Linked DNA regions of Homo sapiens. The protein of the gene in region 1 interacts with the protein of each later gene in a pairwise test. Each region holds a gene or a part of one and is shown on either strand. Other genes may lie near its edges.

The links. Proteins that work in one complex are often made in the same cells at the same time.
Region 2: the proteins of STX17 (region 1) and ACSL3 interact in binary tests that used the Homo sapiens proteins (3 or more experiments, as listed by UniProt).

Annotation. Positions count from the first base shown.
Region 1 is NC_000009.12:99,909,507-99,917,313, reverse strand, and holds part of STX17 (syntaxin-17), read right to left. Parts: intron 5,159-7,807; exon of another isoform or gene 3,163-5,158; intron 2,137-3,162; 5' UTR 2,075-2,136; coding exon 1,952-2,074; intron 1-1,951. UniProt on the Homo sapiens protein: SNAREs, soluble N-ethylmaleimide-sensitive factor-attachment protein receptors, are essential proteins for fusion of cellular membranes.
Region 2 is NC_000002.12:222,926,883-222,934,689, forward strand, and holds part of ACSL3 (fatty acid CoA ligase Acsl3), read left to right. Parts: intron 1-134; coding exon 135-307; intron 308-1,979; coding exon 1,980-2,054; intron 2,055-3,738; coding exon 3,739-3,930; intron 3,931-6,283; coding exon 6,284-6,398; intron 6,399-7,647; coding exon 7,648-7,805; intron 7,806-7,807. UniProt on the Homo sapiens protein: Acyl-CoA synthetases (ACSL) activates long-chain fatty acids for both synthesis of cellular lipids, and degradation via beta-oxidation.

The sequences.
Region 1 (7,807 bases):
CATATCTATTAAAATAAGCTATTCAATCCTATATAGATAAAAAAAAGTCACTTTTATAATTAAGCTAGACATCCTAGAGACAGTGGAATGATCAAGGATATGGAATAAAACCTAGATCAGTATAAAATTAACTGTTTGGCTTAAGATGATATCACCTACATTATAATTATTCTGATACTGTCTAAAAATTCCACAGTAAGTAAAAATTTCATAAAATGCTAAAGAAAAAAATGTCTGGCAGAGATGGATGGATGTAACTCTGGAATAATCTTCTTGTGACTTCTGGCACAACTAATAAAATCAGTAATATAACCATTCTATCCCCACCCACCTGGCTTTTCCATTGATGACTGATTGGGTGGTACATGTAGCAAGGATCTGAGGGTACTGACAGCAGGCATTTTTGTATAGAATAAACATAAGAAAAAGGAAATCTAAGACAGACATGCCAAACCTCAAAGGAAAAGTAGGACAACAAAGGAAAGAAATGGCCTTAATTTGCTTCCATTCATGTTAAAAAGAACCCATTTACTAAACAACTCCTTATCCATCCTTAAAAGTCACAGTATTACTTATTGCTTGTAAGTAAAGAAGAAATTCAAGGATGACAAAATACTAATCCTAAATTCTAGAAAGACTTCAAATATTCGCATTAAACTTTTCATTTTAATATTCTCAGAACTGATTTTCTCCACTTTTAAAAGGACTTGAATTCTAGAAAGACAGATGGTATCTATGGAAGAAAAAGGTACACTTTTCTGACTTCTATATGCTACTGAGTTGAGTAATGAATAATGTTTATATTGAAAGGCTTAATGACCATATCCTCCACTCCCAACCTTCAAAAGAATGAATGAATGAATGAATGAATGAATGAATGAATAAATAAATAAATAAATAAATAAATAAATAAATAAATAAATGGAGGTTCTGCAGCTTAAGACTTATGCTGGGAAAAGTCTTTTTGAAACAAAAAATATCACTGGCCTGTCCCACAGCAAATAAGACAACATAATCTGCCAAATTAATGCTCAGTACTGAGTAAACTTGATGTTTCCAAAAATGCCACAGCCACTTCACCGGAGCATGGTAGGTTCTATGCAACCTCTATCATAGTCCCTGAGACTAATTCATCTTCTCCTTACCTATTTCCTCAACTGAATTAGGCAGTACTTCTCAATTGTGAGCTTTCCTCAAAGGGAAGCTGTGAAGTAAGGAAATTCCCTCATATCTCACAATGATTTACTTCTTTAATGTATGTATACCTAAAGAGAATACGAGTTACTGAAAGACACACACTCAAAGTTCAAAAACTTGCCATGGGGTGAATGAAATTAAGGCAGGTACATTAGCCAAAGTTCTCTGCCTTTACATTATAGTGCACCATCAATCAATTTGTATCTTAATTATTAACTGCCTAAAACCTCAATATGTACAATTAAAAAGGTATAGACTTGGCCAGGCGCCACGGCTCACACCTGTAATCCCAACACTTTGGAAGGCAAAACAGGAGGACAGCTTGAGGCCAGGAGTTCAAGACCAGCCTGGGCAACAAAGCAAGAACTTGTTTCTCCAAAAAAATAAAAATAAGTTAGCCACGGATAGTGGTGTGTAGATAGCTTGAGCCCAGAAGTTTGAGGTTGCAGTAGGCTATGATCATGCCACTGCACTCCAGCCTGGGCAACAGAGCAAGACCTTGTCTCTCAAACAAACAAACAAACAAAAAAGCATAGACTCTATTCCTATATCCCTTCCCAGAAAAAGGAATATATGAGAGGTATATATGCAGAACAGAAAAACCAGCTAAAAAATGCATAATGTTGCTAAATCAATAGGAGCTAGGTGTTTCAGCAATGCCTCTTATCTAATATTCTAAATTTAGCTGAAATGAACAACCAATATAAATCAAACTATGTAACTATTTCTTGTGGTAGTAAATGAAACAGCTCACCTTCTCAATATTTATCTGGTGCTTTCTTAACCTTTCCAGGTCTGTTGGGATTACTATCTTAATGAATTTCTGGATAGCTGGTTCAAGACGGCGTAATTTCACTTTTTCTTCATCTTCAGACATCCTAAAAAAATGTTGTATGACCTCCCTGGTAACAGCTGTCTTCTCCACTCATATAGAAAAACCTAAAAGAAAAATATTTCTTTAAGAATGTTTTCAAATCTGTTTCCACTATTTTTAAAAGCCAACGATTAGTTTTACAATTTATTCTAAATCAATAAATAGAATATTTCTAATGCTGACCTTGAGTGACTTGTTTTTTTCTTTATGAAACCACTGATTTTTAAATCTTTTTCTCTTTACAAAAATTATATTTTAGAATGTTCAGACAATATAAATAAATGAAGAATTAAATAAAGTCAGCAGTCATCTCCTCACCTTTTACAAAGAGTACAAAATGTACTCTTTACATTTTGGCATACGTCTCTCCAGGTCTTTTTCTATGTAAGTAGGTATGTATGTATATAAATACTTTTAAAAAAGCTAGGAGTATACTGTCCAAGTTTTCATTTTCTGATCTATCTTGGACATTGAATAACCTTTTTAAAAAAGGTATCAAATGGCTTAACACTGATGCTTGTATCAAACTTCATGTCTAATGTCATCATAATGTAACTTTGTAATTACACAACTTCAAATATATGATAACATAATATGCAACTTTTCTCATTGATGTGCTTTAAACTGCCTCTTCCATTTTCAATAAAGTGATTAGTATTGCCTACAACTGATTCAAAAAACCAGTGACAGAGCTGGAATAAGAACCCAGATTTTCTGAAATTACATTGAAATACTTTTTCCACTTCACCAGTAGTTTCCTACTAGTGTTCCAGAAAGTCCAAGGGTATGCATTTGGGGCCAGAGTACAAGCGTAGGGGCTAGAGGTGAGTAGGTTCCAGGACTCCACTCCCTACTTCAGTTGTAGAAACTTTACTTACAACTATTTTATGAATTGGAGCTTATCAGAGCTTATATAAATAATGGGCTTCACAGCTTAACCAAGCTTGAAAGCCACCATTGTACACCATGCTTTCATGCCATTTCATTAGCCACAACCTCACCCATGTTTAAAAAATTTTAAGTTGAGTATGTTAATACTGCTGAGTTATGCTGTCTTAGTCCAGGGTCTATAAAGATAGGAATTCACATACAGACTTTGTGGAGCCACTGAATCTTTATGAAAAATTGTGAATGAAGGGGCCGGGTACGGTGGCTCATGTCTGTAATACCAGCACTTTGGGAGGCCAAGGCGGGAGGACCACTTGAGCCCAGGAGTTCATGGCCAGCCTGGGCAACATGCCAAAATCCCATCTCTACAAAAAAAAAAAAAGAAAAAAAAAGTGAATATAGTTTATTTTGGAGAATAGAGTCCATTGTTTCAAGGGATTCTCAGAGATCTATCATCCCCAAAACATTAAATATTTATCCCCTTTCTTTCACAGTTGAAAATCTTGATGTGTTGGTTATATAGACTGCCTCCAATACCTACCCATTAGTAACTTGGTTTTTATGTTTGATACAAGGCTCAAAAGTCAAAAAGGAAAATCTCCAGGTACAAAAACAAAGAGGGTAAAACAGGTGCAACAGTGAATGGAAACTGGGGACATATGGAGAAATTCATTACCAAAAGAGACCATCCACAGACCCAACAAAACAGGAAAATTCATACCTAATGGACGAAAGATAATAAAATAATTTTAAAAAGAAACTAAAGTAAGTATATTTTTAAATATCCAAAAACATTCTATTCCAAAAAGGAACAGAATCTTTTAAAAAAATAGATATTATGAAACAGTAAGAGGCCAGCCTGAATATAAAACAAGTAAAACTTCTAGAAATGAAAATCTCAAAAGATGTGTTAAACAGTAAATTATATAGATAAGAAACAATTATTGATTGGAAGAAATCACTCAGAACACAGAGGAATAAAAAGATGAAAAGTATAAAAAAGAAGATAAAAGACATAAAGGATAAAATCAGAAGCTTAATAACAAGTAGAAGTCCCAGAAAGAAAGAACAAAGAAAACAGTAAGAAGGAATTATTCAAAGAGAATATACTGATAATTAAAATGTAAGACCTCAAACTGAAAAAGCACATCAGCCTCAAGTAGCATACATTAAAAAGAAACCAAATTTGCCTAAATACATGGAAGGGAAATTGCAAAACATTAAAGAACAAGAATCATTAAAAAAATGAGACATAAAAGACTGACAAAGCAATAATATATTGCTTTTAAAAGCAAGATATTAAAAGACAGAAATACCTTCAAAGTGCTGAGAGAGTTGGTATATTCCCAGGTAAATTATCATTTAAAATGAAAGCAAAATAATCATTTTCAGACATACAAGGACTAAGAGAGTTTATTACCAAGCCCCTCATTAAAAGTACTTAAAGGAATATTTCAACAATAAAGAAAATAAACCCAAAGGAGTGGAATAGCAAGGAGCAATGAATAGAATAAACTGTTAACGGATAGAATAAATGGGTGGATGAAAGAACAAAGAAAATAAAACATTTATTTTGAATAGTGTGATGAAGTATAATAAAAATGTTTCCATGTAAATAATTTTCTATAATTACGTAGATGCTTCACAATTTTACAAATTGGCTATTATTGGCTATTTAGGTTGTTTCTAATTTTCCACTATTATAAACTACAGTGTAATTACCCTGCTTACACATAAATCCATACTGCTGCCTATAATTATTTCTTTAAAACAATCAACAAAGACACAACCTGTATAAAGGGAGAAAATATTTGCCAACTAGTCATCCAACAAGGGACTAATATCTAGAATGTATGAGAAACTCAAACAACTCAACAGCAAAGAAACAAATAGTTCCATTAAAAAGTGGGCAAAGAATCTGAATAGACATTTCTCAAAAGAAGACATACAAATGACCAAAAGGTATTTTTTTTAATGCTCAACATCATTAATCATCAGGGAAATGCAAATAAAAACCACAATGAGATACCATCTCACCCCAGTTACAATAGCTATCACCAAACGGATAAAAAATAACAAATGCTGGTGAGGATGTAGCAAAAGAGGCCTCTTTTTTTTTTTTTCTTTTTAGATAGATTTTCGCTCTTGTCACCCAGGCTGGAGTGCAGTGGCACGAGCTCAGCTTACTGCAACCTCTGCCTCCCGGGTTCAAGCAGTTCTCCTGCCTCAGCCTCCTGAGTAGCTGGGATTACAGGCACATGCCACCACGCCCAGCTAATTTTTTGTTTTTAGTAGAGACGGGATTTTGCCATGTTGGCCAAGCTGGTCTCGAACTCCTGACCTCAGGTGATCCACCTGCCTCGGCCTCCCAAAGTGCCGGGATTACAGGCGTGAGCCACGACGCCTGGCGAGAAAGAGGACTCTTATACACTGTTGGTGGGAATGTAAATTAGTACAGCCATTATGAAAAACAGTATGGGCTGGGTACGCTGGCTCATAGCTGTAATTCCAGCACTTTGGAAGGCTGAAGCAGGAGGATCACTTGAGGCCAAGAGTTTGAGGGCAGCCTGGGCAACATAGCAAGATCCTTCTTCTCTGAAAAATTTAAAAATTAGCTGGGTGTGGTGGTGGGTGCCTGTAGTCCCAGTGACACCAAGGTGGGAAGATCCCTTGAGCCCTAAAGTGTGAGCCTGCAAGAAACAGTGTTCTTACTACTACACTACAGCCTAGGCAACACAGTGAGATCCTGTCTCAAAAAAAGAAAGAAAAACTGTACAGAGGCTTCTCAAAAAATTAAAAATAAAACTACCATATGATCCAGCAATCCCACTACTGGGTATTTATCCAAAGGAAAAAAAATCAGTATATCAAAGAGATACCTACAGCCCCATGTTTATTGCAGCAGCATTCACAATAGCCAAGATATGGAATCAACCTAAGTGTCTGTCAATGGATGACTGGATAAAGAAAATGTGGTGTATATACACAATGAAATACCGTTCAGCCATTAAAAAAAAGAATGGGTCAGGCGCGATGGCTCATGCCTATAATCCCAGCACTTTGGGAGGTGGAGGCGGGCCGATCAGGTCAGGAGATCGAGACCATCCTGGCTAACATGGTGAAACCCCGTCTCTACTAAAAAATACAAAAAATTAGCCAGGCGTGGTGGCATGCACCTGTATTCCCAGCTGCTCCGGAGGCTGAGGCAGGAGAATCGCTTGAACCCAGGAGGCGGAGGTTGCGGTGAACCCAGATCTCACCACTGCACTCCAGCTTGGGCAACAGAGCGAGACTCCGTCTAGGGAGAAAAAAAAAAAAAAGAATGAAATCCTGTCATTTACAACAACATGGATGGAACATCTAGCCTGTACTCCCAGCTACTCAGGAAGCCGAGGTAGGAGGATCACTTGAGCCCAGAAATTAGAAGCCAGCCTGGGCAATATAATGAGACCTCCATTTCTAAATAAAAAGGGGGAAAAAAGTTGATCTCCTGGAGGTAGAGAGTAGAGTGATGGGAAGGGGCAGGAGGGGTGAAGAGAAGTTGATTAATGGGTACAAACATACAGTTAGATAGAAGGAATACATTATTCATGTTTAATAACACAGTGAGGTAGCTATAGTTAACAATAATTTATTGCATATTTCAAAATAGCTAGAAGATCTGAAGTGCTCCTAACACAAAGAAATAATAAATGTTTGACATGATATATATCCCAAATACCCTGATTTGATCATTACACATTGTATGTATGTATCAAAACATCACATGTATCCTATAAATATGTAAAATTATTGTGTATTAATTGAAAAAAGTAACATAAAAATAAAAAATAAATATCTAGAAATAGAATTATTAGGTAGACAGATTTTTCAAGGTTTTTAAAACATATATATAGCCATATCCCACAAAAGGTTATGCCTATTATGTTCCTACCAGAAACATAACACAATGTCCATTTATCCATATTCCAAGCAATATACTTAGTATTATCATTCTTAGACATGTCATTGGTGAAAAAAATGATGTCTCATTATTGCTTTACTTTGCATTCCTTAAATTACTAACAGGGTGGATTTATCAGCCATTTGCATTTCTTTTTTTTTTTTCTTTTTTTTTGTTTTGAGACGGAGTCTCACTCTTTTGCCCAGGCTGGAGTGAAGTGGTGCGATCTCAGCTCACTGCAACCTCCGCCCCTTAGGTTCAAGTGACTCTCCTGCCTCAGCCTCCCAAGTAGCTGGGATTACAGGCACGTGCCACCACGCCCAGCTAATTTTTGTATTTTTAGTAGAGACGGGGTTTCACCATGTTGGCCAGGCTGGTCTCGAACTCCCGACCTCAGGTGATCCACCTGCCTCGGCCTCCCAAAGTGCTAGGATTACAAGTGTGAGGCACCATGCCCAGCTGCATTTCTTCTTTTTTTAATTTTTAATTTTTGTGGGTATATATTAGTAGTAGGTATATATTTATGGGATATTTGAGTTATTTTGATACAGGCATACAATGTGTAATAATCACATTAGGGTAAATGAGGTATCCATCACCTCAAGCATTTATTCTTTGTGTTGCAAACAATCCAGTTATACTCTTTTAGTTATTTTTAAATATACAATTGAATTATTATAGTCACCCTGTTCGGCTATCAAGTACTATATTTTATTCATCCTCTATCACTATTTTTTTGTACTCATTGCATTTCTTCTTTCATGAATTGCCTGTTCATGTCATATGCATCTGTTTTTACTACAGGGGATGTCTTTCTCTTATTAACTCATAAAAGGCTATTACATGTTAAATGTATCAATTATTTGTCTAACATTAACATTTCCCAATCTATCACACTGCCTCTT
Region 2 (7,807 bases), on another chromosome or scaffold:
AAATTGGCTGTGTGACCTTGGATAAGTAACTTAATCTCAAAATCTCTCATATCAAAACTGGGGGATTAGTTTAAGTGATTTGGAAAATCCCATTCAGTTTTAAAATCCTGTGGTTCTCTAATTTTTTTCTTTAGCTTTGTTTTCCGGAAAGTTCGAAGCTTGCTAGGGGGAAATATTCGTCTCCTGTTGTGTGGTGGCGCTCCACTTTCTGCAACCACGCAGCGATTCATGAACATCTGTTTCTGCTGTCCTGTTGGTCAGGGATACGGGCTCACTGAATCTGCTGGGGCTGGAACAATTTCCGAAGGTAGTGTTCTCCATGGTCAGAGGCTGGAGTGTGATGCCAGACGTTTTTTTGGGGTATGGGATATTTTCTGCAAATATATAGGAGAAGAGTAGTAAGGTGTTTGTGAGGCAGAATAATGGTGGATTCCAAGTACTATGATCATTGATATCAATTTTTAGAATGTATTAGATGCATCTGGAGTCAATAATTTATCTGGAGAAGTTTTTATATCAAACTGATAGGTAATATTAAAAACCACTTAGCATTTTGGAAGAGAAACTTTAGTAACAAACACTGACTGTTTTGTGTACATTTATTTTCTCACATCAGTGATTAAATTTCTTTTTATGTAGAAAACTTAAGGTGCTTTTGTTTATTTGTGTAGGTGAGTATATTAAGGCTCAGGTTCAGAAATGTTTATGAGGATTTCTGTAAGTGTTAGAGAAGGAACTAAGTTCTGGTCTAGGGAATATTATTACCAGAGTTTATCATGTGGTTGTGTTTGAGGAGGAGATCTACCAACTAATCAGCAGTTCTGAGATGAATCGCATAGGGCCTCATGCGTCCCTTTTATGGGAGAAAGTTATTTTGCTTTCCGGTACAGGATACAGCTGTGCTTCTCCTACTTTGTATTTGCCATATACGGATAGATACAAAACCTCATGACTGATTTTTCCCTATTTATTTTGAGTGGCTCTGTATACCATTTTCATGTATTACTTCATTTTTCTGTTTTTCAGTTATGTTCTCTGTTTTCGTATATTTTTGGAAGCTAGTTCTAAGTCATGTTTTGTAGGAAATAAGCAATCTTAAATACATGCATAGGGGATTTCTTTCTTCTGAGGATCCTTAATTTCTTCTATTTTTAAGATTCAAATTGAATGATTAATCAGTAACAGTTTATGTTTTAAATAAAAGTCTTTAAAATGTTAAATATCAGCCTTTCATTTCTGATATTTGGTCTTTGAAGAGGAAACATAATGCAATAGTAATTCATAATAGTGGAGGGTTCTTTCCTCACATCCTTGAAAGCCACCAGTCTTATTCTTCAGCCTGGCTCTTGAGCTATTGCTGTATTAATTTTAAATAGGGTGTGATAGCATAAGCTGATGGAAGCCTGCAGAGATCTCACTTTGAAATGGTGATACATTACATGGGAAAAGATTAGAGAGGTGTTTTATACTGCACATCGGTGAGGCCTAATAAGAAAGTAGAATAGACGTAAACCATTGTTTTCATCATCCTTTAAGACAGGGATTTCAAACTCAAGAACCAGGCAGCTACCTATTTAAATGAGTCAAGTGGGCCCTAATGTAAGACAATGTGATGGGTAAGGATTGATTCTGAGGGAACAGGAGCAGGCATGCCCTCTCTAACAGAGGCCGTCAGTTCTGCTGTACCTGAAATGTGGGCCCATTGTTGCTGGCGATTCCACACTTACATCTAAAATTTCCTGATTTTTTAAGAATGACAATAACTAATTTAAAAAAAAAAAAAAAACCTCAATGTAGGCCAAAAAATACGACTCTACAGGCCTCACGGCCTGTGCTTCACCAATATGTGACTTCTGCTTTTAAGGAATAGCTGGGGATACCTCAGCCTTAGGATAAATAATCATTTTTGGTAATTTAGAAAAATGAAGCAGTGTATTAGCTACTGTTCTCAAATATCCTTTTTTTCATTTAATTCCTAGTGTGGGACTACAATACTGGCAGAGTGGGAGCACCATTAGTTTGCTGTGAAATCAAATTAAAAAACTGGGAGGAAGGTAATAAACTATTTTAACCACAGAGCATTAATTTTTAAAGTATTAAACTTGAAAATTAGTGCTTCACTTTCTTGCTTTAGAATGTAAACACCCATAAGTGCTCATTTTTGTCCTTTGTGATAGACGTGTTTTATCTCGAACTATATGAATGCATTTATTTTTCTTGTTTCAAAGATGTTTCTGAAGAACTATTATTGTTTTCATTTTACTTATTACGTAGATGCAAGTAAGAATTATGGCAAAAACTTGAGAAATGTACTAATAAGTGAATAATGTCAATAAATTAGGAGTGATCATAACTTTATTTTGCAGAAGTAAAATTATAAAATTTATTTTATGAAATTGTGGATTTTTAAATGATTTTTTTCTTTTTTTTTCTGAGGGCTTCAACCTTGTATTATTAGAAGGAAATTTTCACTGCAATTCCATAGAAGTCTGTTTATTCTCATGCCATTTAAAATAATGGTCACTTAAAAATTTATTTGATCCTGTTAAAATATACAAATTATCTGTGTTTTATTGGGATGCACCTTTCCTCTACATTAAGTAAAGATAAAGATTCTGGCCGGGCGCAGTGGCTCACTCCTGTAATCCCAGCACTTTGGGAGGCCAAGACGGGCGGATCATGGGGTCAGGAGTTCGAGACCAGCCTGACCAACATGGTGAAACCGTCTCTACTAAAAATACAAAAATTAGCCAGGCGTGGTGGTGCGTGCCTGTAATTCCAGCTACTCGGGAGGCTGAGGCAGGAGAATCACTTGAACCCGGGAGGTGGAGGTTGCAGTGAGCCAAGATTGCGCCACTGCACTCTAGCCTGGGTGACAGAGCGAAACTCTCATCTCCAAAATAAATAAATAAAGAAAGATTCTAAGGCTTGGATGTCTTTTAGCTATCTTTAGCAGAATTAGTGGGAATATTTAATAAATTTAGGCTTGGAGTCATTTTGAAATTATCTATAAGAATAAATCTTAATATGTAGTAACTCACTTTTTTTTTTTTTTTTTTTTTGACACGGAGTTTTGCTCTTGTTGCCCAGGCTGGAGTGCAGTGTCAATGGTTTCGGCTCACTGCAACCTCCACCTCCTGGGTTCAAGTGATTCTCCTGCCTCAGCCTCCCTAATAGCTGGGATTTCAGGTGTGCGCCACCATGCCCGACTAATTTTTTGTATTTTTAGTAGAGGTGGGGTTTCACCATGTTGGCCAGGCTGACCTCAAACTCCTGACCTCAGGCGATCCACCCTCCTTGGCCTCCCAAAGTGTTGTGATTACAGACATGAGCCACTGGCCCAGCAGTAACTCATTCTTATATAGGGATTTGTTCTATTAATTGCATGACTTAATACTTCTGTCAGTTTATCAATATGATATTTAAGATGTTGCAGAATCTTTCAAATAATTTGTCTCTTGTATTTATAATTTTATACAACAAATGGAAGATGTTGGGTTTTAGAGTTTAATTTTTTTCTCAGAATAGAAGTTTGAAAACATAAATACTTATGGTTTAGCAACTGAGATTTTGTGCCTACTGTTAAATTGATAAACTTTGTTCATTCATAGTGTCTGCCTTTTTTCCTTTGGGAAGTTCTAATTGGATTAAAATAAGATGACTGTTTAGAAACTAGTAGTTTCAAATTTTCATGTGTTGTATTTAACTCAACTATTAACTCAATTATTATTTTATTAGGTGGATACTTTAATACTGATAAGCCACACCCCAGGGGTGAAATTCTTATTGGGGGCCAAAGTGTGACAATGGGGTACTACAAAAATGAAGCAAAAACAAAAGCTGATTTCTTTGAAGATGAAAATGGACAAAGGTGGCTCTGTACTGGGGATATTGGAGAGTTTGAACCCGATGGATGCTTAAAGATTATTGGTAAGTCATCTAATATTTTTTTGAAAATGAATGTTTCTGAAATAGTTTACACAAGAAGCACAATATATTTAGAGGAGGCGCTGAATAATATAAATCTTTATGTAATCTTAGTTTGGGTTGTTGCATCACTCCTGGAATATAAAATATTACGGACTGTGGAATTTATGAGGCCTGACATGTTATGAGTTCTCAAAGATGGTTCAGCAGCAGTGGTATTTTAAATTACTCTTAGATAACCTTCAGTCATTGTTTCCTGCCTGTGTTTCTGACATCTAGAGATTAGTGGATGGAGCTCTCACAGTCTGAACTGCACCCTTGCCTTGCCCTGCCCAGGAGAATAGAGGAAAGCCAGGCAGCTCAAGTACTATGACTCATATGGGTTGAAAAATACCTTATTCTGCTTCTCCTTTTAGGTTCTTTTTTTTTAAAAGTTAATGGCATTTCAGTTAGCCGTGTGTGGTGTCTTTGTCGGGCACCTGTAATCCCAGCTACTTGGGAGGCCGAGGCAGGAGAATGGCATGAACCCGGGAGGCAGAGCTTGCAGCAAGCGGAGATCGCGACACTGCACTCCAACCTGGGCAACAGAGCAAGACTCTGTCTAAAAAAAAAAAAAAAGTTAATGGCATTTCTATCCCTGTCTTGCTAACTAGAAACCTGGGAGGAGACTCAAGACTGTTCTCTTCAGTCAGCTTCCCATGCCTATTTTATATCCCACTAGTTTATTTTATGAGCTATGTCTCAAAATCATACTCTTCTCTCTTTGTCTCTCTTACTTGATCATTGGTCAGGCCTGTACCTTCTGCCACCCTCTCCCAATAATTTCTCTGTTGCCATGTTTACCCCCTTAAACACACCCTCTCACTGCCACCATGTAATTACTAAACATGGATCTTACTGGCCACAACCATTTAATGTCTCCTAGAAGCTCAGTTCAGGGTGCCCCTGTTAACATTGTTCCCCTCTTCACCTTCATCGTCAGTTGTTTTCCTCCTCCTCCTTGATGCAGCTGAAATTAGAGCTGATGTTCTTCTGGCTTTTGCCAGTGTTGTTGCACCTGACCTCTCACTTTTCCCTTAGGACTCGGCTCAAGCAGCTGAGCATAGTGACTCAGGCCTGTAATCCCAGCTACTCGGGAGGCTGAGGTGGGAGTATCACAGGAGCCCAGGAGGCCGTGATTGTGCCACTGCACTCCAGTATGAGCAACAGAGTGAGACCCTGTCTCAAAATCTCAAAACCAACCAACCATCCAACCCTCAGCTCAGGCCTCACTTGCAAGAATTTTTTCCAAATCCCCAGGTTGGAGAGTCTTAACACTTAGCGCTACCATTGTAGTACCAATGTATTGAAGTAATACGTTTTTGCATTATGCATGTCTCCAGATAGGTTGTGAACTTGCAGATGGCATTGAATATCTTCTTCACCTGCCTGGTACTAATGGATACCAGAAATAAACCTGTTCAGAAGAACATACTTGAAGCCCTGCTAATGGAGTCCATTAAGTAGAAGTTAATTGTTTTTCTTTCTTTCTTTTTTTGAGATGTAGTCTTGCTCTGTCGCCCAGGCTGGAGTGCAGTGGCACCATCTCAGCTCACTGCAACCTCTGTCTCCTGGGTTCACGCAATTCTCCTGCCTCAGCCTCCTGAGTAGCTGGGATTACAGGTGTGCACCACCACGCCCAGCTAGTTTTCGTATTTTTAGTAGAGTCGGGGTTTCACCATGTTGGCCAGGCTGGTCTCGAACTCCTGACCTCAAGTGATGTGCCCGCCTCGGCCTCCCGAAGTGCTGGGATTACAGACATGAGCCACTGGACCTGGCCTGTTTTTCTTTTAAAAGCATGGGCCGGGCGCGGTGGCTCACGCCTGTAATCCCAGCACTTTGGGAGGCCGAGGCGGGTGGATCATGAGGTCAGGAGATCGAGACCATCCTGGCTAACAAGGTGAAACCCCGTCTCTACTAAAAATACAAAAAATTAGCCGGGCGCGGTGGCGGGCGCCTGTAGTCCCAGCTACTCGGGAGGCTGAGGCAGGAGAATGGCGTGAACCCGGGAAGCGGAGCTTGCAGTGAGCCGAGATTGCGCCACTGCAGTCCGCAGTCCAGCCTGGGCGACAGAGCGAGACTCCGTCTCAAAAAAAAAAAAAAAAAAAAAAAAGCATGTATTTAGCAGTACAAAAATTAGGGCCTAATTTTAATATGTGCTTTTAATTTCAGCATAACCATTAATGCTTAATTTTGCAAAGTTTTAAATAATTTGATAGCAAATTACTTAGAGAATGGCCAGTATTTATATATGTATTAAATGTTACTAATATTATTACTCATTGTTTTCCCCTCTCCACCTTTCTTTGTTTTGCAGATCGTAAAAAGGACCTTGTAAAACTACAGGCAGGGGAATATGTTTCTCTTGGGAAAGTAGAGGCAGCTTTGAAGAATCTTCCACTAGTAGATAACATTTGTGCATATGCAAACAGGTAAGAACGTGGAATTCATACTACTTTTACTTAAAATATTTGATGTCCATAGACATTTCCTACCTGTATGGACCTTCTTTGTAAAAATGTTCCGAGAACTCTTCCTATCTGTTACTTGTGGGAATGGCCTCCTTCTCATTGCAGCCATTAGCTGACTCTTTTCCTTGTAAGGCTTCCCCTGATCTTTCTCTCTGTCCCTGTTTTCTGCTTTACGTCTCACTGCAGTGTCCCATGGAGGGAGGTGAAGAAAATAAAACCTTCCTTCCTGCTGCCTTGGTACCCCTACCTACCTGTCCCTCAGCAGGGGAAGCTTCACAGAACTACTCCAGAGGAATGGGGAGTAAAGAAGTGGCAGTGAGGAGTGTGCTGCTTACTTACTCCTGCTCTACACTTGAGCCTGCTCGGCACTCCAGGCAGGTCTTGGGGCTCCTATGTAAGCTGTGTTAAGCTGCAGCCTAAACACACAGCCTCCCCACCTCATGATGATGAAGAGGCAGCTGGGGACCTGTCTACGACAGTTGACATGAATTATTATGGGAAAATAAAATCTGTTATCAGGAAAACTAATTTAGAAACAGATGTTGGGGGTACAGCCCAAGTTAGAAATGAATTGCATTTATTTATAAATGATTCTGGTCTTTAGCCATTTAGTATTTTCTTTAGTGATGATACAGATCTGGATTTATTCATGTGATAGTAACCAGAAGCATCTTCTTCCTGATGTTACTATTTTATGGCCTTCAAAAAAGTATTTGCCTTCGTTGGGCATAGTCAGAGTTCCTCTATCAATACAAATTCTGATGATAACAAAAGAAAAAAAAGAATATATTCACATCATTTTGATTCGTTGCTGAATTTTTAAGATAGTTTTTAATTTATGTTAAATTTTAGTTTTTTAAAACACATGCTATGAAATACTGATAGGGTTTAAAGGTGAATATTCTAATATTTGTAACTTTCTTTTAAAATGTGTACATGGCAGTATTCATAACAGTTTTTCATAGTTGAAATTCATCATGAAATGTCAGATTGAAGTTTATTTAGCAACGAACTCTGCCAAAGCATTGGAAAATATTATGAATCAAACAGTAAAACTGGCGGTTGCATGAAATGGATATGCCAGTGCCAAGTATGGCACATGCATTTTAAAAAAAATGAGGAGTTATTTACTACTTGTCACTGTAATAATAACTGCAGTCAACACAGTTCACCATTTTGTTCCTTATCTGTTATCCTTTCTATATTTCAGTTATCATTCTTATGTCATTGGATTTGTTGTGCCAAATCAAAAGGAACTAACTGAACTAGCTCGAAAGAAAGGACTTAAAGGGACTTGGGAGGAGCTGTGTAACAGTTGTGAAATGGAAAATGAGGTACTTAAAGTGCTTTCCGAAGCTGCTATTTCAGGT